4 linked regions of the Homo sapiens genome follow. The protein of the gene in region 1 interacts with the protein of each later gene in a pairwise test. Each region holds a gene or a part of one and is shown on either strand. Other genes may lie near its edges.

Region 1 (7,011 bases):
GGGCAGTCAGTGAGAGGGCAAACTTCAAGGAGCCTGACCACTTGCCTAGGCTCTTTGATTGACTTTGCAAAGCACAATGTGTGCATATGGAACCCAGTGAAATGTGTGCTCTCATTGGGCATTTCTGCCTATTTCCTCAGTTTCTGTTTTCCTTCATTACAGTTACTTCTTATAGGAATTTCAGTTAAGAAAGAATTCATACCTTCTGAATGCATCAAAGTTGTGGGATTCCTGCCTGTTAAGGACTAAAATCTACTACCAAGAGTTTGTATTTCATAAAGCTTGAGGAATTGGACTGATTCTAGGAGAAAAGAGGTCTCTAGGCAGGACCTCTTTTTTTCCTCTAGGAGAAAAGAGGTCTCTGGGATCTCTTTTGGGAATATGAATCTGAGTTGCCACTGAATTCCCAGAGCCCAGCACAGAGCCTGCCACAGAGTGGGTGCCCACCACGTTTGTGTGGTTGAATTGGAATAGGGCCTCTGCAGAGCAGGTGTGCCCGTCCCTGTGGGTTCTGATCCCTGGGGAAGTCGGGAGCTCCCTCCCACCTTGAGAGGCCCAGTTTGCTCCTTGCAGACCTCAGCGGATATGGACTGCAACTTGGAACGTGGAGGAGGAGGCAAACCAAAGCTGCAGAACAGGAGATTGGACGGGACACACTGATAAAGGCCTTTACCAAGTGCAGCCCTGGACCTCTGCCTAGAATCCCCAGGAGCTAGGGGAACACTCACACTCCTGGGGCCTGTCCACACCTATGATTCAGAATACCTAAGACTGGAATACAGGAATACGCATTGTTGACAAGCATCCAAGGTGATTCCTGTGTCCAGTCAAGTGTGGCGGACTCCCCATCCTAAAGGATTCTAAACTCTGGGAGGACTCTTTTGTCCCTCTGGGCTGGAATAGGAGGGGGCCCATCTGGAGCCTGAAATCTGTGTCATAGCCACATGGGAGTCTCAGTCCCCACCCTTTCACCCCCTTCTGCTTTGTCATGTTTCACTCAATAAATCCATCCCAGAGTATTGACTGAAGGCACAGTTGGGAACAGTTGAAATCCCAAATTAGGACCACACCTCCCTGCTAATTCCCCAGAAGGGGAAACTTCCCAGGAGGAGCCCTCACTTCTTTTTGAAGTCTTCCACCAGGTCCTGCATGCTTTTCAGCTCTCCCTCCAGGTTCCCCCTCTCCCCTAGAAGTGAATCTAGCTGCTTGCATAGGAAGCTGATGTAGGATTCAAAACAAGGCTCCAGGCTGCTGGGCCCTGAGCCTGTGGTCTGCTGCTGGAGCAGTTCCCACTTGGTCTCCAGGACCTTGTTCTGCTGTTCCAGGAACCGCACCTGCATGAAAGAGGGGAGAAAAGGAGTCAGCCCCTTGAGTTGGGCATGTGGGGCTGCCCATCCCAAATGTAGAACTGTGGAGAAGGAACCCAGTTCTTCAATCTACAATTTCCCCTGTTTTTTAATTTGGGAAGGATGAAGATTTAGCAAAGGGAGAGCTAGAATTTGTTGAGTGATTATGCCTTACCTGTTATTTTCATGTATTTCCGTCACATTTAATCCTCACAACCACCTATAAAGGAGTTGCTGTGATCCCCATTTTGTAGATAAGGAAACTGAGACTCAAAGAGTTTAAGTTTCCCAAAGTGACAAGTCTACTGAGTGACAAAGCTAAGAATCAAACCCAGGACTGTCCTGGGTCTATAGGGATCCTTCAGAATACCACTGAAGGAGGTAAGCACAAATAAAGTTTGTCATTGTTTTTTAGATGTAAGCTTTTTTCAGCTCCATAAAGGCAGTGAATACAGTCAATGAGGTCTAACATTTCTTTAGAAGTTTCACATAGGAAGACCTCCTTTCAGTTATTCAGCTTGCAGCTGAACTAGAATTCACTTCAGATCCTGGGCTCAGTCCCACACAGACCCAGAACACCCTCCTCTGCCCCAGCATGGACAGCTCAGTTTAATTATTGGCTGAAGCACAGCATCATCTGGAAGGTAAGGCAGCTGCCAATGCACCTCATTTAGATGCAGCCTCAAGATCTGTGCTAACACAAGGTTTTGATTACCAGCTACTTTGGATTATCAAGCAATTGCTTTTCAGGAGAAATTAAAGTAACTGCAATAATTTCATGACTAAAATGGCTCATTCTTCAAAAAGCTAAGAGCATGTTTGGACCCCCACTTCATTTACCCTCATCTCATTCTTAGCAGGAAACCAGGACCAGGAATTCTTCCCCCCATTTCACAGCTGGAAAAAGAAGGCCCAAAAAGTGAAAGGGGCATGATCACTGTCCTGTAGGGACCAAGACAGCACCAGGACAAGAGCCAAGCGCCCCTGCCCTGTGTCTCACAAGTCCCCATGGCATCTTTCTACACCGACCCCTGGGCACCCCAAACCCTCCACAGCACCTCTTGGCCTTGCCCTCACCTTGTCGATGAAGGAGGCAAACTTGTTGTTGAGGGTCTTGATCTGTTCCCGCTCCTGGGCCTTTACTTGCCCAATCTGGGGGTCGATCTCCACATTGAGGGGCTGCAGGAGACTCTGGTTTACAATCACTTCCTGAATTCCCCCAGGAAAGCCCCCAGGGCCAAAGCCACCAGGACCACCAAAGCTGCCAGGCCCACCAAATACACCAGGACCACCAAAGCCACCAGCTCCACCAAAGCCACCAGCCCCTCCAAAACCACTACCTACTCCTCTGCCACCACCAAAGCCACCACCATAGCTGCCCCCAAAGCCACCTCCATAGCCACCTGCAAAGCCACAGCTGCTCCGCCCTCCCCCAAAGCCTCCAGCCCGGGAGCTGCCAGCTGCCACGCTGATGGAGATGCTCTTGTTGCTGCCCAGGTTGTAGAGGCTGCGACTGCCAAAGCTGCCTGCTCCGCTCCTGAAGCCACAGGCCCCTCCACCAGCTCCCCCAGAGCGGGCCACACAGCTCATCCTGCTGCTGCCGGAGACCACAGCAGAGCGGCCAGAGAAACCCTGGCTCCTGCCACTGAAGGATTTCTTGCAAACTTGTCTGTTCATAGTGAGAGAGCTTGGAGGCAAGCTAGTGATCACTTAGCAAGAGCTGAGAGGGATAGGGACAAGAGAGGAGACTGGCCTTTATATAACAGGGAGTTTGGCTTGGCAAAAGGAGAGGCGAGCAATTAGTTGAGAATCATCTTGGGTTTGGTTTGCCTCGTAGGCATTAAGTTACTTCTTGGTTCCCAACACACCTCAGAGATAATCCTCTGGGCCAGAGTGGCTTTGCTTTCTTAGCTTAATCACCTAAACTTGCCTCAGTTGACAAAATGCTGGAGCTCTCCTCCCTCCCTTTTTGTGCTGTCCTCAAGGGTTTCAGGGAACCCAAGCAGCACCTGATCCAGCAGGAGGAAGCAGCTTTAGACACCAGGTGATCCGGAGCCATGAGCTCCCTGACACAGGGGGGTGAGGACCAGGCAACCTCTTCTGAGTGGGCTGGGTCCCTCCCTGCAGCACCACAGTGTCCACAGGCTCCCACAGTGGCTGCGCCCGTCTCTGCCATCATTAGGCCTTTTCTTCCAGTGGCATGTCACCTGTTCCCAACTCTTCAGAGGGCCTGGAGTGGGAGCGGAAGTGAGAGGGGCCCAGACCCATAGAGTCTGCTCTGCCAGCACCTCAGCCAAAGGCATCCATCTCAGCAAACCTGGAGTTTGGGCTGAGAAATGCTACTTATGGGGAAGAAATTACAGTGGAGGTAAACACGTCTAGCTCCTGGAACAGGGAGCAAACAAGTATGAGGTTTGGGAAGAAGAGGGGGCATGCACTGTGGAGAGCCTCAGACCAAGCCCTCCCCCCACCATCCTAGACTGACAGCAGGCAATTTCTGGACCCAGAAGCAAGAGGAGACAGAATCTGGTAACCCTCCAGCTGGCTGGTAGAGTCGGCTCAAGCACCCCATTCATCTTAGGAGGACAGTGTATCTTGTGTCTAGGCCCCAACTCAGATCTTCTGGAGGGGATCCCCTCCCTGCTTTACCCCCTGGTCTGGGTCAGATGCCCCTCCTTGTCTTCCCACCATACCCTGTACTTTTCCCATCGTGAACCTGACATAAAGTATACTTACCTGCTTACTTGTCCATACCCCTCCGGTCCCTGAGCTTCTTGAGGGCAAGGCTTGAGTCCTGCCCATTCTAAATTATCCTAAATGTCCAGCTCCTAGCATAGGGTAAGCACAGCACAAACGTGTTAACTGACTGATGACTGATGTCTAAGAATGCAAATACCTAAAACCAGCTCCCACCCCAGCCCTATGAATGAAAATCTTCAGAGGAAAGGGTTGAGAGTTTGCATTTTTAACAAGCCCTCCAGGTCATTCTTATAATGCGGAAAGTCTGGGAAACCCTGGTCTAGACCATGGCTACACCATATGGGCCAGGAATAGGAGGATGGAGGACCCCTGATGGCAGAACGAATGACACATGATGAGTTACTGCTGTCACTGCCAAGAGCTCAGCAGACCCCAAACCCCATCCAACCCACCTCCGCACCCAAACACACCACACAGGGCAAGACCAAATCCTCAGGTTGTCGTCTGCATAGGAGATTTCACACATATGACAGGAGCAGGTGGCACTGATTCTAGACTCCCTGAGAAATTGGTGGGGGGTCTATCTCCAGAATTCCAGCCAAACTGGCAGTGGGCGCTCTGTCTTTCTGAGTTTCTGGTTTCTGAACAGTCCAGTCTAGGGGAGAGAATTGGTCTGAGAACCTTGGAACCACCTTGAGTTGAGTGACTTCAAGAGCTTTGCAGCTAATTCTCAGCTCTCTGCTCTGCAGCTTATCTGGCGTCAGATCCCAGATCCACTATCCACCAACTTTTAGGCCTTGGACAAGTTACTTAACTTTTATGTGTCTGCTTTATCAATTGTAAAATGGGGCTAAGAATGGCAAGTACTTTATGGGGTTGTTGTGAGCATTAAACAAGTTAAGTAAATATAAAATGCTTAGCCCAGTGCTTGACACATAGCAAGCACTATATGTTTAGCTACTTGCCAGTACTCTATTTGGGGGAATGGAGAAGCAATAACATGTTTGGCCCTGGCTGTTCTCAAGACAACTTTGCATCCCTAAGAAGCTCACCAAAGGTGAGGAAAGGAGGCTGAATAGGAGTGAAGAATTAGAAACCCAACTTGGGATAGAAAAGACTGAGACTTATACTGACTAGGGTTGGGTTGGGTGACCTTGTGCCACGATTTAACGTAAGTCTGTGTTCTAATCTGCCAAACACTTTCCTACCTTACTGGTTTGTGGTGAGACTTGCAGGATAATGTAAGTGAAAGTCCTTTGAAAATCACAAAATTCCACACAGGAGTAAGATAGCTGTGGTATAACAGAAAACCTGTCATCATCATGGAATTCCAAAGACCTGGGTTCAAATCCTATGTCTACCTCTCACTATGTGGTGACCTTGGACAAGGTACTTGACTTCTCTCTCTCCTTATTTTTAAAAGGTGGCATTGATCCTACTTGCAGGATTGTTTTGAAATTTAAATACATAGTATTCAGCAATATATGTTTGGATTTTTAAATTAACATCATTCATCCACAGATAATCCAGGAAGAGGATTTCATGTTGAGTTCTTCCATGAGACATTTATACTCCACCCATCAATTGAATGACAGCCCCTCCTGGTAAGGTCTTTCCTCATATCCTCTGGATCCTTTAAAAGCAGAAGATCACATGCTCTTCCTGGAAAGAAAGCTGAGCCAGGCTCAGCTGAAGCTCCAGGTGAGAGTCCGAAGCAAACAAGAACAGACATAAATGTCTCTGATTCCCTTCCCTCCCTTGGCTGCAGTACTGAGGTGGTGGGTGGCAGCCTCTGATGTGTGGCTCACCTCTGCCACCCTGGCCTAGGCTGGAGAAGCGTGGTGGAGAAAGGTGATGCACAGATCACAAAAGCGCGGGTTTGGGCTGGGTCGCCTAATCCATGTCGCATGAGCCTGCCAAAGCATCACCTTATTTAGCAGATGGGGATTGTCTTCTCAGCAGTTGAATGGAGCTGCTGGAAATACCCAGAGTTGCTATCCTCACCAACATTGCCCTCATTCACTGTAGGATCTTTCAGAACAGTATCTAAAGGGTCTGCCTACTGCCAGCAATCTGAGTTCCAATCCCTCACTGCCAGAACATTCTGTGTAAAGCTTGCCAGATGGCTGAGCACCCTGGATTTTTATTTCCCCACCTATAAAATTGGGGGCACTAAAACCAAGGAGTTATTCCCTCTAACCAAATTGCTCTCTGGTAGTCAACTGCAGTGAGAAGACTTCAGATTGCCTGTAACATAATTATGAGTGGAGGAATGCATCATGAGACAGTAGTCATTATCCTTGGCCAAAGTGAGCAGTCATCCCTCTCCACCACCATCTGCTGAGGATGAGGGAGCCATGGCTGCTGCCTCTTTCTCCATGGAGGTTCGCAGATCCCATTTTCAAGATAATCACCAATTTGTTCTCAAAAATAAAAAAAGAATAATTAACGTTCTGGGTATGCTGCCCCTGGACTAGGAATTAGCATTCTTTTCTTGTTGAAATAAAAGCTTGTCACTAGTGAAGCAATTTTAACCAATGAACAGTAAAAATAATTACCATATAGAGCAAGATTTATAGTGAAAGCTTGATAAAGAAGCAAACATCTAAGTACAACTAAGTCCTTATGTTACTAAGGTCTTAGCTGTTAGCAACCACAATTTGTTCTGATTCTGGTCTTATCTCTACACTTGATTAAAATACACACCAGCTCACCCCTCATTCTTTATCTGGTACTTGGATCTCTCCCAGGGCTTATGCAGGGCAGAATTCTATCTCCCAAGATGGCCCTGATTAAAAGGTTCTGTGATTACATAAATTTGGGAAATGAAAAATCTATAGCTCTTTCCTGGGATTTTAGTAAAGTTGTTTAGTATATTAAAAGCCCAAAGAAGTCCTATAGAAAATAATGTCTTTGCCTTAATTTAATCACAGCTTCCCAAATTTAACAACAAAATCTTTCTATC
Region 2 (7,141 bases), on another chromosome or scaffold:
CAGAAAGAAGGGGGAAAGACAAAGGGCAAAATATGTGTGCCAATTGGGTCTATCACCTTCTATCCAGAAAATAATAATTTTCCCAGAATCCCTCCCATCTACTTAACATTTATTGACCAGAATGATATTGTAAGTGACCCAGGGACATTTCACTTCTTTTTTCTTTCTTAGATGAATAAATCCTTGCCCCAATCCAAATTGAGGCTCTGTTAGTAAGGAAGGAAGGGCAGGGAAATTGGGCAGGTAGCAGCATCTGCTACAGTATTTTAGTGAAACCTTGTTACTAATGTCTTACATTGCAAACATTAACTAGTTCGTCATATACTGTGAAGTTAAATAGAACTAAATTAATTTGCATTTCTCTAATGCTGAGTGATGTTGAGCATTTTTTTCATGCTTTTTGGCGATTTGTATGTCTTCTTTTGAAAAATATCTATTCATGGCCTTTGCCCACTTTATAATGGGGTTATTTGTTGTTGTCGAGTTGTTTGAGTTCCTCGTAGATCCTGAATATTAGTCCTTTGTCAGATGCATAGTTTGTACATATTTTCTCCCATTCTGCAGGCTGTCTTTTCACTCTGTTGATTATTCATTTTGATGTGTAGAAGCTTTTTAGTTTATTTAAATCCAATTTGTCTATTTCTGTTGCATTTACTTTTAAGTCATGAATTCTTTGCGTAGGCCAATGCCCAGCCCCCTAGGTTTTTTTCTGTTATTTTTATAGTTTCAGGTCTTACATTTAAGTCTTTAATCAATCTTGAGTTGTTAATTTTTGTATATGGTGAGACATTGGGATGGGTTTCATTCTTCTGCATATGGTAATCCAATTTTCCCAGCACCATTTATTGAATAGGATGTCATTTCTCCAGTGTATGTTTCTGTTGACTTTGTCAAAGATCACCTGACTGCAGGTATGTGGCTTTGTGTCTGGATTTTCTATTCTGACAATGAGATACAATCTTACACCAGTTAGAATATCTTTAAAAAGTAAAAACATAACAGATATTGGTGAGGATGCAGAGAAAAGATGGTATAAAGCTTGTTCTTAGCAATAGGGGAAGTGATTGTGGCAGTCAGAAATTTTATTGGAAAGCCGTGGAAGAGAATCCAGGAGGGGCAGAAAATAAGTTGTTCTCCTTGTCATGACCCAAGAAGAGTTTTCCATTCCCCCCAATTCCCCAACTCAACTAAGTTGGAAAGAATCAAGCCAATATACTTTTAGTACGACAGGTACATAAACTAACAACATATGTTATATTCAAGTGACAATTTTTTTCTCAACTAAAAATCATGTGGATGAGCTATTTTTTTAAGTGTGCATTTTAGAACAGTACTTCTGTATGTGGAGGGATCCAGGTGCACAGGCTTCTGCAAAGACATAGTGTCCAATCCTCAGTCTTGCATTCTCCCCTCCCTCCTCCCAGGAAAGCAGGGCTGGTGCTCAGGGAGATGGGTTGAGAGTGATGCTGCCAAGTGCCTGCCAGCTGCAGTATATTCAGCCTACAGAGTGAGCAGTGAAGGAAGTGGGGGAGGGAGGTGACCAGTAGAGATGAGAGAAGGAAAGAAAAACTGAGGTTGATATTCAATATAAAGAGGCAAGGCAGAGAAGGGGAATGAGCCATCTATGTGGGGGCTCATAGGAGAAAACAGACCAGGAGAAGAAATATCAAGGGTAGAACCAGAGAAATTTTGTGAAGAGAGGGGGGTGGTTGCAGCAGCTTTTTAATTTTAATTTAATTTAATTTAATTATATTTTATTTTTTGAGACAGAGTCTCGCTCTGTCCCCCAAGCTGGGGTGCGGTGGCATGATCTTGGCTCATTGCCATGTCCACCTCCCGGGTTCTCAAGCGATTCTCCTGTCTCAGCCTCCCGAGTAGCTGGGACTACAGGTGTGTGCCACCATGCCTGGCTAATTGTTGTATTTTTAGTAGAGACGGGTTTCACCATGTTGACCAGGCTGGTCTCGAACTCCTGACATCGGGTGATCTGCCCACCTCTGCCTCCCAAAATGCTGGGATTACGGGTGTGAGCCACTGCACCAGCTGCAGCAGCTTTTTATAAAATAAAATGAGGAGTGTTGTTCAAGGCACAAATAAATAGTAATGAGGAACTCTAGAAGAGTTTTAGACTGGAATATAAGCTTTGTGGAACATTTACCCACATTTAGACTGCTCAAACTAACCAAAACATCAGGTTTCTTGCCTTCAACTAGACTACTAGCCACCTGGCATGATGATTATTGGTTAACTCAAGGGAAATAACTTATTACTTAACAAATGTTATTGGTAGTAAAGATATGGAATCAACCTAAGTGTCCATCAACAGATGATTGGATAAAGAAAATGTATACACACATACACACAATGGAGTTTTATTGAGCCATAAAAAATAATGAAATCATGTCTTGTGGCAACATGGATGGAACTGGAGGCTACTATCTTAAGTGAAATAACTCAGAAAGTAAAATACCACATGTTCTCACTTATAAGTGGGAGCTCAATAATATGTACCCAGGGACATAGAGAGTGGAACAGTAGACATTGAAGACTTGGGAGGGTGAGAGGGGAGCGAGGGATAAGAAATCACTTAATGGGTACAATGTCCACTATTCAGGTGTTAGCTACCCTAAAAGCCCAGGCTTCACCACTACACGCAATATATCCATGTAACAAAATGACACTTGTACCCCCTAAATCTATAAAAATAAAAAAAGTTATTGGTTAAATAAACTATAAAGCCTGAAGTCCTCAAGGAGAAAAAAAAAATAAAAGGGGTTATTGGTGAATCAATATCAGGAACCACTGCTTTTCCCTTTATTTTTGAAAATAACTTTAGGAAATACTTGACTGTCTCAAAAACTATAACTAGAAGTATTCATGGGACATTCTTTTCTAGCTTTGTATGACTCGGCTATTGGATACTAAAAATCCATCCCTGGACACTATTAAGATGCAAGTCTACTTCGATATGAATTATACGAATCGAGGTAATGTATACTACCTATTTTTATACTTAAAAAATTTCATACTGTGTTTCAGCTAAGAAGGGCTTCATTTGGTTGACAATGAATTTAATTGTTTAATCAATTTAACAATTTAATTTTTGGCAATCAACTTTGAGGAATACAACGTTAGAAATGCTAAATGAAAAAAAACCATTGGCCTTTGTGAGTGTTAAAAGTGAATTCCAATTATTGTGCTCATAATTATTGTTTCCAGTGGCACTAATACATAATAATTAGGAATTCAGCCCATTGAAGTTAAAAGTTTTTAATTTATAGATTTTCTTGTTCCTGGTTTATGTTATTATCTCATTATAATTACCTAAATTATGTAACTATTCAAAAATGAACGATGGGGAGTTTAAGTTTAGAAAACGTTTCAATATGTAAATTTTTTTTGAGACAGAGTCTTGCTCTGTCACCCAGGCAGGAGTGCAGTGGCACGATCCACAGATCACTGCAACCTCTGACTCCCATGTTGAAGCAATTCTCCCACCTCAGCCACCCGAGTAGCTGGGACTATAGGTGTGTGCCACCATGCCCAGCTAATTTTTGTATTCTTAGTAGAGACGGGATTTCACCATGTTGCCCAGGCTGGTGTCGAAATCCAGGCCTCAAGCGATCTGTCTACGCCTTAGACTCCCAAAGTGCTGGGATTATCAGTGTGAGCCACCATGCCTGGCTCATTATGTAAATAATTTAATGCATACATCAAAGACAAGTTGGAAACAAAAGAAAAAGGAAAATGTAATTCTCTATGGACTGCCTCTGCACCTGCTATATAAAACAAGTCTATTTCTCTATGGACTACCTCTACCTCTACTGTATAGTACAATCATTATTAACAATTTGGTGATGTTTCTCTTTGTTAGTTTCAGTTATGCTACCTATGTAAAAGTATATATCTTGCGTTTTTGCTTAATAGTGAAATTTTAAAGCAAGAAATAGTCATATAATTGATAAAATTTAACCTATAGATTTTTAAATTTGTTATTTAAACATATTTTTAATTTGCAAAAAGTTCTCAGTTGGTTTTGTGGCAAGGGTATAGGTATAAACTGTGCGTGGTGGATATGTTAATTATTGACCTTGTAATAGTAATATGGGTTGTCTTATAGAGTCATTGCAGAATTGTACTTGCAACAACTCAGGGAACATAGTGTCCTGCCAAAGTGAAGCCTGTCCCTCAGCATATCACAGGAGGAATGAGGAGGGATACAGTTCTCGATGCAACATCGTATTATCAATAATGCTTTTCAGAGGAAATTTATCTAGAACTGAAATAAAAATACACGTAACCGAAAGGAACATATATACTACATATATATTTCTGCTACTATATATGCTTATGTATAGTATACTACATGTGCTTACATATAGCATAAATATATAATATGTATATATTTATTTTTTCATATAGTATTAAAATTAAAATATATAATATATATTTTGTAGAAATGGTCTTCTTTATTTTCTGCTTAATTGGGAGGTTTTAGCCTTTTCTGATATCTCCTGTTTAGTTTGGCTGTTTAAAGTCTTAGGTGTTTTGACAAAGTATTCCATTTAAGTCACTGTAATAAATCTTCCCTCCTGGATTTTTGTCTTGAGGCTACATGCTGGCCACTGTTTTTTATTTCATTATTACAGCTTAAGAAATTACTTGTTTTCCTGAAGTAGAATTGCCATATCCAATCCAGTTTTTCTCTAGTTCTTACGTAAGAAGAATTCTAAAAATTAAATATATAGAACATTGTTATTTGGCAATTTTAGTGGAATTTCTCGAAGAACATCACCGGGTCCTAGAGTCTAGATTAGGCTCTGTTACCCGAGAAATTACAGATAACAGAGCATGTGCTAAAGAAGAATTGGAAAGCCTCTACCGGAAGATTATCAGCTATGTGTTACTCCGCTCTGGCCTTGGATCCCCTACAGACATCAAGACTGTCAGAGAGGTAACAGGTAAAAAGTATAACCAATTTCCATTTCATAAGTGAAAATATATGGTCATTGTATTTTATAAAACATGTTAAATTAGAAGTGTTAAAGATTGAAGTTCCCTTTTTATCTGAAAAAAAAAAAAAAATCAGCACAAATGAGTTAAAATGTACCCAGTCTCCTTTTACACTGTGTATCCATTCTAAAACTCAAGTAGCACCTCTAGAAAGTGAAATATTGCTAATTTTCCTAGAGCTGTACATATCTAGGCACCTATTACACCCCATTAGAGAAACATTGATAGTAGGATTGAGGGTACCAGGCTGATTGAGTAAATGGAAAAGCTGAAAACGGATATTTCATATTGATGAAAGAAATTGAGTCTGTCATTTAAAATGGGTGATGGAATGGGGCACCATTTTATCCTTAGGAAGTCTTTGCCCTCTTTCATCCTTTAAAATGAGGAATAGGAAAAATGTCTAGCTCTCCTATGGCTTTCTTCCATAATTATTTTAAAGCATCCATTTTTTGGCTCAGATCCCTAATTAGAAAGCTTGTTTTCATGCCCATTGCCAAAAAGTTACTGCTGGATGCTTAATTATTAAAAATGGACATGAGGCAATGGCATAACTCTCAGTAATCCAGCTTTGATGCGTGATAAGTTTTATTATGTATCCTATAATCAGGTATCAGTAATTTAAAGAATCATATAAGTAACTCAGACCCTTAACTTGCTGCTAAAGAAAAACGTTATTTAACGTCTGATATCTTTATTCTATCATTTTGTTTTCCTTTTTTTTTTTTCTGGTTTATTTTAGCTGCTCTACAGAGTGTTTTTCCTCAGGCAGAGCTTGGGACATTTCTAACTCTTTCTAAGAAGGACAAAGAACGCCAGCTGAAAGAACTCACCATGATTGTTACTGGAATTCGTTTATTTAACAGAGACTGTGGAAAAGGAGGAGAAGGCATTGATGATTGTAGGTATATCATTAGATTAATTCTAAAGGTTATGTATGTTTAAAATTTAACTTGCACAGTGAGGAAAATAATAAACAACACACCACTGGCATTCTTAAATTTAAGATTTGCATTTTTTACTGTTTCCTTAAGAATAACTACTGTTTATAATGTGTAGTGATTTTTACTTTTGCTGGGGCAAGACTTTACATTTTATGTACCATGAAGCTAGTAGGAGAAAGTGAATCAGTGAAAGCAATGAAGGGTCCTGCTCAAAGCTAACCTCCCAGTTCAGCAGGGCTTTGTGTTCATTACTGCAAGTCCGTAACCAAAAGGGAGTACAATTTAGTTATTTAAAAAATAAAAATCTTCCTGAAAACAGTTCCTGGTGCAGTTAATGGAATGAAAAGATCCACGAGGAGATATTTCAAATCTCTAAATTCGGGGGCATTTACTTTGTGGTTATATACTTAATGCATTCTTTATAAGTTTGAAAGTACTTATGAAATATTTAATGAAGTACCTACCAGTAGAAGTAACTTCCTTATGAAATTTGGTACTCCTGTAGGCCCACTGATAAGGTGTTAGTGTCTTTCACCAAATCACTAATCTAGTATAAAAGGGTAATTTTTTCTATTTTAAAAACTGTTCTAAAAAGTCAAATTTCCATTTTCATAAATGACCCTCCCTTGCTAGACTATTCTGTCATTTTTCACCATCCAGATGAGTTTCTTAACAAACGTTCCTTTTTTTTTTTTTTTTAATAACTAGAAAAGAAGATATACAAAAGGAAGGGTCAGTGGCTTTTCTGGAAGCACATGGTTAACAACACATAATACCAAACTCTGCCTATTCTCTGAACTCTTCTATATTTAGTGGCAAAAGCTGACCTACTGTAACTGGGTTATCATTCTGTTAATATCTTTTGTTTGAACTTGTTTTAGATTCTTTTTTTTTTTTTTTTTGAGATGGAGTTTCGTTCTTGTCGCCCAGATTGGAGTGCAGTGGCGCGATCTCGGCTTACTGCAACCTCCGCCTCCCGGGTTCAAGTGATTCTCCTGTGCTGGGATTACAGGCATGCGCCACCACGCTCAGCTAATTTTTGTGTTTTTAGTAGAGACGGGGTTTCACCATGTTGGCCAGGATGGTCTCAATCTCTTGACCTCGTGATCCGCCCGCCTCGGCCTCCCAAAGTGCTAGGATTACAGGTGTGAGCCACCACCCCCGGCCTAGATTTTCTTTATGTT
Region 3 (7,354 bases), on another chromosome or scaffold:
GGCATCTTTTCCGGGGGGAAGCTATATTTTATTAATCAGAAAAATACTAAACAAATGTGTTTGTAGGGAATATTGAGAGTGAAAAACAATTGTTGAATGGGACATAAGCCAAAAAGACAATGCTTTTTATTATTTACAGAACGTAATTCTTTAGAAGAGAAAAAAAATACATAAATCATTCATTTGTTCACCTAGCCTGGCACTGTGCTTGGTGCTGGAGATACAGTAGTGAATAAAATAGCCAGTGCCTTGTAGAGTTTTGTGCCTGTCTACTAGGAAAGACAGGAGATTATACAGTAATTATATAAGATGCAAATTGTGATATGCCATGAAGAAACGTATAGCATTCAGAGGGACATAACACAACACAAGACATACCACATAAAACTGATTTTTTTTAAGATGGTCTCACTCTGTTGCCCAGGCTGGAGTGCAGTGGAGCGATCATAGCTCAGTGCAGTGTCGAATTCCTGTTCTTAAGCGATCTTCCTGCCTCAGCCTCCTAGTAGCTAGGATTACAGGCATGTGCCACCATACCCAGCATGTTTTTGTATTTTTTTAGAGACAGAGTCTTACAATGTTACCCAGACTGGTCTCAAACTCCTGGCCTCAGGTGATCCTCCCACTGGGCCATAAACTTGATTTTAACGTGGGAAATGGGAAAGCGTATCTCAGGACATTTTTGAAAGCAAGTTGATTAAGAAAGTAAAGAAACAGAATGGCTACTCCATAGAGCAGCCTCTGAGGACATTTATAGCTTTTGCAGTGACATGGTTGTCTAAGTGAATGATGGTGATGGTCATAAAAGTGGAGAGAAGGGGATAGAGTCCAGGTGAAGTCTGACAGGATGTAGTCATGGTTTGGAAGCGGAAAGTGAGGAAGAAGAAAGGGCTTCTGGCAAAAAAGGCTTTAGCCTTTATGCATGCAGGATCCCTGGGGGGAAAGAGTGAGTTCAGGAGCATGGCTTTTAGACTTACCAGGTTTACAAGGCAGTTGTATCTATGGAACTAAAAAATATAAATTTTGAAGTTGTATACAGAAATGGTACTTAGAGCCATAGAATGAATGAAATTGCTTAAGGAAAATGTAGTGTGAGATAAAGATCTGAGGAACTCCAACATTTAGGGCTGACTAGATCAGGGTAGCTGGCAAAGGGGACTGCGGAGTTGGCAGTGAGGCTGGAGGAAAACCTGGCAAAAGGGACTGAGGAGTTGACAGGGTAATGTCAAAGTTGTCCACAGGAATCTCCAGGTTGAGGTAGTCAAATGAACACTTAGATGAATACTGAAAAGTCCAGTGGATCTAGCAATATGAATGTCACCCGTGACCTTAGCAAAAGCACTTTTGCTGGAATAATGGGGAAAAGCCATTTTGGAGTACGTTGAAACAATGAATGGGAAGTGAGAAAGTAGATACTGGATGTATAGCAGTTTTTCCAAGAAGCTTGGCTCAGAAGGGTAGCAGACAGGATGACAAGTGGAAAGAGAAATGAGGTCACTGGAGGATTGTTAAAGAGTACAGCATGTTTGAGTGTCACTTGAAAGGTTCCAGTGGAGAAGCTGAAGAAGTAGGTAAAGGTAAGAATAACCAAGGGACAGAAGTCCTGGAGCAGGGAGGAGGGAATGGGATTCTTTAAAACCTCTTCATCAAGAAACTAGGAAAAAAAACCAAAGTTGTACCATCTCAGATTTCAGAGAAAGGGAATTTAGAAGGAAGTAATATAAGCAAAGAGCAACAATATTCTGTGACTGTTTTTAATAATAACTAGGAAAATTCCTAGTGCAGTTAACTCTGAACAAAATTCATTCCCACCTGCATAATACAAGATAGACTTACTCAGAGTGACCTTGGTAAAAGGTGTGATAATAAAGAAAGGAGGTGTCATTATGTCTTCATTGTAGCTTTATATGAAGCCCTGGTCATTTACCGTATCAGCATCAGCAAACTGAACACTGAATGATTCTTACTCCAAGAGGCAAGTCTTAGTGGTTTCTATTTTAACTGAAGGAGAGATTAATTTCTGTGCAAGGTTGAAAAAGGTGACCACAAATTCTTTGGGCTTCTTTCATCAAGAGGTGAAGTCCATTACCCCACGCCTTAACTCTGGGCTGGCTTTGTTGTTGTTTTGGCCAATAGAATATGGCTGAGGCGCTGCTTCCAAGATTAGGCCTGAATTGAGATGCCCTAGCAGCCAGGCAGCACCTGCCAGAGCATGAATAAGGCTATCTTGGACCGCCCAGCGTAGCCAACCTGTGCTGAATGAAGCCACATGAATATGCCCAGGAGAAACTAGCAGAAGAATCACCCACCTTGCCCACGTTAGAGATATAAACCACTATTTGAGGCAGTTTGTTATGCAGCAAAACTTAGCCGAAACTATTACCTTGCTACCTTGACTGCTGGTGTAATTTCCCATCTCATGGAGTCACAGAGTTTTCTTGCCAACTGCAGTGAGTTGGCAAATGGGAATGATCAGTAGCCTCAGTGTGTTTTCTGATCCACTCCATCCTGTATTATCATCTGCGAATACCGTTTTTCCTTTAAATGCAATGTGTCTTTCAAAGCTGACTTGAATTTCTCACCTTTCGAGTTACCTGCCATTTGGACTCACTTATTTGGAGGAGATATGTAAAGACCCAGCGTAATACCTGTATGCTCAATAAAAAGTATTTGCTGGTACTCCTTCCTGCCCGTCGTGTGACCTGACTGCTCTGGGCTTCTGGGGGCTCCCCCTAAACTCGCTCCACGAAATGACCCCTCCAACCTGGCACGCCCGCTCTCCTACCTTCGCCCAGGGCTGGCCGTTATCTCTGTGCTGTCACGCGGGGAAGTCCCATCTGAACTGGGGCCTTATGACCTTCGGTACTTTTATTCGAACGTAGCCTGCGTCCCTGCCTGGAACCTGGTTCCCGCCCTGAAGGACCCTTACTTAGCACTCCTGCGGGCTGCCGGGACCCCACGGCTCCGCAGGCGGAGAGACTAGGCGCGATCCCTGCGCGCCCCTCCTTCTCTTGCGCTTCAGGGGGCCGGCCCTCAGGGGGCGGGGCAGCATCGCGCGCAAGGCCTGCCGGTTGCTCGGGGTCGTATGACGCACTTTTCCAGCTCGAGCCCTCACGAGGCCGTGGGTACGACCGGAAGCCGCAGGTGGGTGAAGCGGAAACGCTTCAAACCGGGATGTTGCGGGCCGTAGCGCGTGGGCGGCCGTGGGGTCTTGGGCGCGCGCGGTGTTTCTGGCGGTGGGTCAGGACTTGCGGGTCGCCTCCGCCGGTGTTGAAGCCTCTTGTGTGCACACTTTCTCCTCAGCACTTGGGACGACCTAATTTCACTGTTAGGAACGGTTGATCCCGAACACAGGAGGGAGGGTAAATATCGTAAAACATGTTGGACGCTAGCTGTGTGCACGCCCCCTGGGAGCCAAAAGGGCGAAGTAAAACATGCACACGACCGTAATGAGATTCTGAGTAAGTTGTATATCATTAGAGAGGGGACAAAATAATAGGGTCTTGGCGAGGTCTTATGAAGAAGCTGCGCCTGCCTAGAAAGATAGATGGGATTGTGCTGTTTTCGCTTTCAGTTCAGTGATGGGGAGCCGTGTTTGGCAGTGCAGAGGTAGCGAAGTGTCCCAAGAACATGGAAGGTAAGGAAGTCTTCCGAGGAAAAACTTCAAAAAATTAGTCATTAAAGGGTGAGAGTAGAAAGATTCAAAGTGATTTTGAAGGAACAAAATTTAACCAGAACTTCAAAGGCTTGACACTATCCCAACGACTGTGAAATATCCTGAAATACCGTGCATTACTCAGTCGGGGTCTGATCCGCTACTGGAGCATAGAATAAAAAAAGAGGGGCACACCTGTGCCAGATGAATCCACGCCTTCTCTAGGGGAGAGAGGGTATCCCGGCTTAAGAGCAGGGGCTCTCCTGAGTTAAGGAAGTGTCTTCCCCAGAGCCCATTCCGTCAGACGTTCATATCATGTAACTCAGTCCTTTTCTGATTATGTATTCACCAAGCAAACTTAAGAGTTGGCTTGTCACCAGACCTACAGTGAATAATTGCACAGGCTCATCTGAATATCTGATAGATGGTCTATAGTTCTCTTTGTAAATCAATAAGCTGGCAGTCAGGGATTTTTGGACATCCCTTTGTTTTCACTTTTTCTCACTCTGTGTGATTTTTTCTTATCTTTCGGGGTTCAACTGAAATGTCACATCCTCACTGAGGTCTGTTTATTGGTTTACGTGTTCAGGTGCTTAGAACAGCTTCTTGCATCTTTTCTCACATGATGCCTTTTTAATGAGGCTTAGCCTAACAACCCTATTTAAAATTGCAATGTAAGTTTTCTCACATACACAGTTACAATCCTCCCTTTATCAGCTCTACATTTTTTTTTAATAGACTGAATCTCGCTCTGTTGCCCAGCCCATCTCGGCCCACTGAAACCTCCACCTCCCGGGTTCAAGCGATTCTCCTGCCTCAGCCTCCCGAGTAGCTGAGATTACAGGCGCCTGCCACCACGCCCAGGTAATTTTTGTATTTTTGGTAGAGACGGGGTTTCACCATGTTGGCCAGGCTGGTCTCAAACTCCTGACCTCAGGTGATCTGTCCACCTTGGCCTCCCAAAGTGCTGGGATTACAGGTGTGAACCACCTCGCCCGGCCATCTACTTTTTTTAATAGCCCTCCTTATCACCTTTATTCATTTGACTCACTGATGATTCCCAAGTGCTAAGAACAATGTCTGTCATGTAATTGATGAAAACTTTGTTGAATTAATACCTTTGTTGTGTTTTATTCACACTGTATATACAATACCTGGATGAAGAGAGATATTTTTAGCACTATTAAAATACATGCATTGGCTCAATACATGAATTGGATCAATTCTGGAACCCTAACAAGATCACATTTTTGACCAAAGTCAATATCTTGGACTATAGTTAATTTATCAAGGTAAATGCCACTTTGATGTGTCTTGGTTAGGAATCTTTGTTCACTTGAGGGAATACATGGTATATGATAGGAACAGTAAGCACAGAATAGAGATGGGAAAGGGAGAACCCTGTCATAACAGTTAACATTTCATATTTGCCAAACATGAATGGCTTATGCATATTAACACATTTAATTCTCTCAACCATTTTATGACGTCTGAGGCCACTGAAGCAGCTAGAGGTTAAACCACTTCCCTAAAGTCATTAGTAAGTGGCAGAGCCAGGATTAAAAATTTAAGTCCTTAACTACTTTGCCATCCTGCCACACTCTGCACATGCAGACAAGAGTAAGAGCCTTAATCTTGGGAAAAGATATTTCACAAGATCTTTGACAATTTCCATATCCACAGACACCATCCAGCTTATTAGTGACCACCACTCCTATTTGTTACTTTCTCCTTTAAGGCTGCCCCTACCTGAACTCTGGATCCCAGTACCATCACTTTCTCAAGGACCTCCCTTCTCCAGTGTTGCCCTCTCTTGACTCCCCTACCAGCATCTAAACATGCTCAGATCTATTGCATCTTAAGTCCTCTCCTAACTCCACATTCCTTTCTACCTACTGCCCTAGCTTTTCCACTTCACAACTAGAATACCCTCATTGTATCCACCTTGGGCCTCCTATTTACTCAGTACATCTGGTTCTTACCAAGATCACTGATAACCTTCTTGATACTGTTTAATAGATCCTTTTCAACCCTCATCTTATTTGCTCAATCTTTGGCATTTGGCACTGTTGACCATCTTGTCTCCTTGAAGCTTCCATAATAGCATATTTAAAATTTTTCTGCCTTTTCTTCTATCCTCAGCTTCCTTTGGGAGCTCTCCCTCCTTCTTCTGTATGTCCGTTAAATGTTGCTGCTCTTCAGTCTTATGTCGCAGGCCCTTAAATCTTCTCACTGAACCACCTTCCTGTGGCCTCAGTTACCATCCATTGAGCTCTGTGCCGTTGGCCGCTAGTTCAACAGTCAAAATGAACCAATTATCTTAACCCCATACTTCCTCTTCCTATAAAATCTGTCCTAGGAAATTTCACCTCTTTGCCAGGCCAGAAATCAGGGCATAATATTAATAAAATAGTTAGCACATATTGTGTACTTTCTTCAGTGCCAGGCACTCTTCTAACCACTTTATATGTATTAGCTCATCAGACTCAGCCTGATAATATGAGATGAGTCCTGTCATTATCCACATATTAGATAACAAATCTGAGACATAGAAAAGTAATCTGCCTTAGGTCATTCAACTGATAAAGGATAGAGTTGGGATTTGAATGAGGGCACTCTGGTTTGAGCTTGTAATCATTATATCATAAAGGACATGATGCTTGACTTCTCTTTCTCTCACCCTAATTCAACCTATTGCCAAGTATTGTACATTCTCCATGCTTAAAATCTCTAGGCGGTGTCCCTGAAGTATAAATCCAAAGCCTTCATGCCTGTAATCCGAGTGCTTTAGGAGGCCAAGGCAGGAGGACTGCTTGAGCCCAGGAGTTTGAGACCAGCCTGGACAACAAAGTGAGATTCATCTCTACAAAAAAAAAAAAAAAAAAAAAATAGCCAGGCGTGGTGGCACATGCTGGCTAAAGGGGGAGGATTGCTTGAGCCCAGGAGGTCGGGGCTGCAGTGAGCCGTGATCACACCACTGCACTCCATCCTGGGCAATAAAGTTCAAGCATTTCACTTGGATTTAAGGTTCTTTATAATCTAACATCTACTTCTCTTGCCTTCTTATTAACTCCCCATTCTTGTATTCCTAATAACCAGCCAGTAGAATTAAATTATTTGCATGGGTCCTATCTCCTTTTCCACTAAGCTGTTGCACATTGTTAGAATTCTTTTCTTTATCCCTTTTATGTCTCAGCTTCAATGTCACATCCACTAATTAGAGCATTAGATGGCGCTCTACTGTACTTAACACCTATCACAGCATTTAGGACACTGTATTTTAATTATTGCCTTACTTGTTTTTTAGTATCTCCCACTAGATTGTGGAGGTACTTGTTTCTTGAAGGCAAGGACAGGTTCACCTTCTTTTCTTTTTTTTTCTTTTAGACGGAGTCTTGCTCTGTCGCCCAGGCTGGAGTGTAGTGGCACGATCTCGGCTCACTGCAAGCTCCGCCTCCCGGGTTCACACCACTCTTCTGCCTCAGCCTCCAGAGCTGCTGGGACTACAGGCGCCCGCCACCATGCCCGGCTAATTTTTTGTATTTTTAGTAGAGACGGGGTTTCACTGTGTTAGCCAGGATGGTCTCAATCTCCTGACCTCGTGATCCGCCTGCCTCGGCCTCCCAGAGCTGCTGGTACTACAGGCACCTGCCACCATGCCCGGCTAATTTTTTGTATTTTTAGTAGAGACGGGGTTTC
Region 4 (3,044 bases), on another chromosome or scaffold:
TCTTCCCCTTACATACTCTGCTCTTTGCCTTGAAGCCCTAAAAATTATGTCAACTGACTCCTACCCCTTCTGCTTTCCTTTTGGGTTTGGCCAGCGGGAAACCCAAGCAGGACATTGGAGAAAGGAAGAAGTATGAAATTGTATATTTCTCTAGTTCATGAGATTCCCCTATGCCTGGCCGTTCCCTTTACAGCTGGTCATTGATCCTTTCAGTTATCTTCTTTACACTCTTCCTGGGTTCTCAGACTTTCTCCCCAAGTTCATTTGAGACTAAAGGGAGAGATAGCCTGTCTGATACTAGCCCTGGGTTCCTGCACTATTCTTTTAGTTTCCCTACACACTACCCACACCTTATAATAAGGCCCTTTGTAAATAAACTCTCCTTGGCTTAAGCTATTTCGAGTGTGCCATCCATTTCCTGTTAAGACTGACTGGCAAACCATTGTTCATCACTGTAGGTCCCTAACTTATATGTGGTCAAGGTCACTCCTTTGGTTTATTGGAGAAGGGCGTTGTTATGGTTTATTTAACCAGTTTATTCTTCTTATAGTTTCACCATTGCCCACAGGGAGTTTTTCTTGCATATGCTAATAGCTCCATTGTTTACCCAGAATGAAGGTTTTTTGTTTATTTATAAATAGTTTCAAGTGTTGTTTTATTGGGATTATGAGAAGGATGGAAGGTGAAAGCAGACGATAAACTGCAAAGATTCAAATGCCTATACTAAAATATAAATTTTTTTATCCTACTTAAAGAAGTTTTCAAGAAAGAGCACTTTATAATGTTTCCTCCCCTCCACATACTGATTAGCTTCCTATAACTACATTCTATCTAAAATAAATAACTTGAAAGTTGTCTAGTTTTTATTTGGCTGTTTGTTAGATTTTAACTCTAATATACTTGAAAAAATTTAAAAAATTTAATGTGAAAACACATTTTAAAATGTTTTCTTTACCCCAAAATATTAATTTCAGTAACAAAATTGCATTTCAATTTAGCACCAACTTCCTAACAAAGAATACTTACTTATATAGAAATGTTTTCTCTTTATATAACTCAAAATACTATGAAAAACAAAAAACAAAATCAATAAACAGATTAAATTCCATTTCCATACTCTGTGACCTCTGTATTACCCTATTAGCAGTGAACAAAATGCCGATCATCAAACAAATACTCCTGGATCACCTAATGAGGAGGCCTCTGGGATTCTATAATCTTAGGTGTTGTGTCTGAGTGATACTTCCATCTGATCTCATCAATTTCACCATCATCAAGTATAAATGAAGCCAGCACTGGAACCTGAGAAAAATAGTTCTTAGCCAGGATATGTTTGTGTTTGATCTTGTGAATAAATGAGCGTTCATATCCCTGCAAAGAAAAAAATCAAATTCTAGTAAATATCACAGATATATTTTGCCAGGTAAAAATACTGTCATGCCTCGGTGCCTTTGCTTGTCAATTCTTTCATCCCAGACTACCTTTATTTTTCTCACGTTGTCTATCATCATTCACGACTCAGCTCCTATGATACTTTAACCTGGAAGTTTTCCCCAACTCTCCCTCTGACTTCTCTAAGTTTAAACCACTGCTAGTTATCAACTCAATATTCATTCTTTCTCCCATTTGAGCCAGAGGCCTGATTTTGTATAGGGTGTGATGTGTCTAGCTTTCTTAGCCCTTATTCTAACTGGGGGTATCTAGTTAGAATATATATATATATATATATATTATTAATGTTATAGATATTGAGGTGAGAAAAAACAAAAATAAAAACAAAACAAAACAAGGGAAGTCTGAGAAACTGTCACCACCAAGAAGAATCTAAGGAGATAACTAAATATCTTCCAAGATTATTTAATTATACACAATATATATAACCTTATATAATTATATATATATAATTGAATAAAGCCTTTGAAAGGGACTTTTGAGAGTGGGAAGACTCACCTATCAAGCACCTCTAGCCTTTTGCCATTACTGAGAGGTACATGTAATGAAGAAGATGAACTAGCTATCCTATCACTAAGAGCCCACCAAGCATGAGAGAGAAAGCTGAAGATTAAATATGGCTGAGGAAAAAGTGAGATGGCCTGAATTTCTGAGAACAAGGTGGAGCCACCATACTAGCCCCAAACTGCCAACCTTTGAACTTTCTTGTTACATAAGAAAACTAAACCCACATTTGATTAAATCATTATAAATTGCTTTTTCTGTTCTTGTAGCTGAACCTAAATGCAACTGAGACAACAAAAAGTTATATTCATTAAATTTTCTTGTTTCTCTGTAATTACTTAGTACAGTATTTGGCACATTCAAAAGTAAATTCTGGTTAAATTAATAAATATAATCTATTACCTATTAATCTTAATTGGCCCTCTTTTCAATCAAATCACAAATACTACCTATACTTCTTCCTAAAATTTATTTTCTGAGAATAAGACATTCCCTCAATAAAGGTCTCTTCAGAGGGTCAAATCAAAGATAAAAGAAAGTCCTGGGTGAAAGGACCAAAAGAGCAGAAAACATTATATAGGAGTATCCTGGGCTTATTAAAATTTCCTCTTAACAGAAAAATTTACTAGGTTAAAATATTCATCTTTTGAGCTAATCTAACTTTGTTTCTACCACTTCTTAGCCCATATTTCATTCAAGAAAAACTAACACACTTTATTATGCTATATTAACTTACACATGTACAGAACTTTATAGGTTTTCAAGGTGCCTTTACAGTACTATAAATTATTAAAGATGAGATAAATTATGATATATGTGTTCAAGGCACTAATAAGTAACTCTTAAATAACTGAATATATTTCCATATTATATTATTTATATTGTTAAGTAAAGCAAAGAAACTAAGTCTCAGAGTCATTTAATATGAAATTCCTGCTACAGTAAAAGTATATATACTTACATACACATAGAAAACTTCCAGAAGGATTTCAATAGATTATTATATACCTAAGAAATAGTAGTTATCATTGCAACATGGAGATAGGGATGGGTGGACATCAAGAGACCTTTTTTCCCATTGAAATAAG

What was found.
Region 2: the proteins of KRT76 (region 1) and CFAP206 interact in binary tests that used the Homo sapiens proteins (3 or more experiments, as listed by UniProt).
Region 3: the proteins of KRT76 (region 1) and TSGA10 interact in binary tests that used the Homo sapiens proteins (3 or more experiments, as listed by UniProt).
Region 4: the proteins of KRT76 (region 1) and IQUB interact in binary tests that used the Homo sapiens proteins (3 or more experiments, as listed by UniProt).

The regions. Positions count from the first base shown.
Region 1 is NC_000012.12:52,774,269-52,781,279, forward strand, and holds the start of KRT76 (keratin, type II cytoskeletal 2 oral), read right to left. Parts: upstream 3,078-7,011; 5' UTR 3,024-3,077; coding exon 2,424-3,023; intron 1,335-2,423; coding exon 1,120-1,334; intron 1-1,119. UniProt on the Homo sapiens protein: Probably contributes to terminal cornification.
Region 2 is NC_000006.12:87,410,914-87,418,054, forward strand, and holds part of CFAP206 (cilia- and flagella-associated protein 206), read left to right. Parts: intron 1-2,896; coding exon 2,897-2,987; intron 2,988-4,772; coding exon 4,773-4,961; intron 4,962-5,755; coding exon 5,756-5,914; intron 5,915-7,141. UniProt on the Homo sapiens protein: Essential for sperm motility and is involved in the regulation of the beating frequency of motile cilia on the epithelial cells of the respiratory tract. Required for the establishment of radial spokes in sperm flagella.
Region 3 is NC_000002.12:99,151,908-99,159,261, forward strand, and holds the start of TSGA10 (testis-specific gene 10 protein), read right to left. Parts: upstream 3,036-7,354; 5' UTR 2,786-3,035; exon of another isoform or gene 2,417-2,785; coding exon of another isoform or gene 2,384-2,416; intron 1-2,383. UniProt on the Homo sapiens protein: Plays a role in spermatogenesis. When overexpressed, prevents nuclear localization of HIF1A.
Region 4 is NC_000007.14:123,451,555-123,454,598, forward strand, and holds the end of IQUB (IQ motif and ubiquitin-like domain-containing protein), read right to left. Parts: exon of another isoform or gene 1,378-3,044; intron 1,372-1,377; coding exon 1,189-1,371; 3' UTR 639-1,188; downstream 1-638. UniProt on the Homo sapiens protein: Adapter protein that anchors the radial spoke 1 (RS1) complex to the A microtubule of outer doublet microtubules in axonemes. The triple radial spokes (RS1, RS2 and RS3) are required to modulate beating of the sperm flagellum.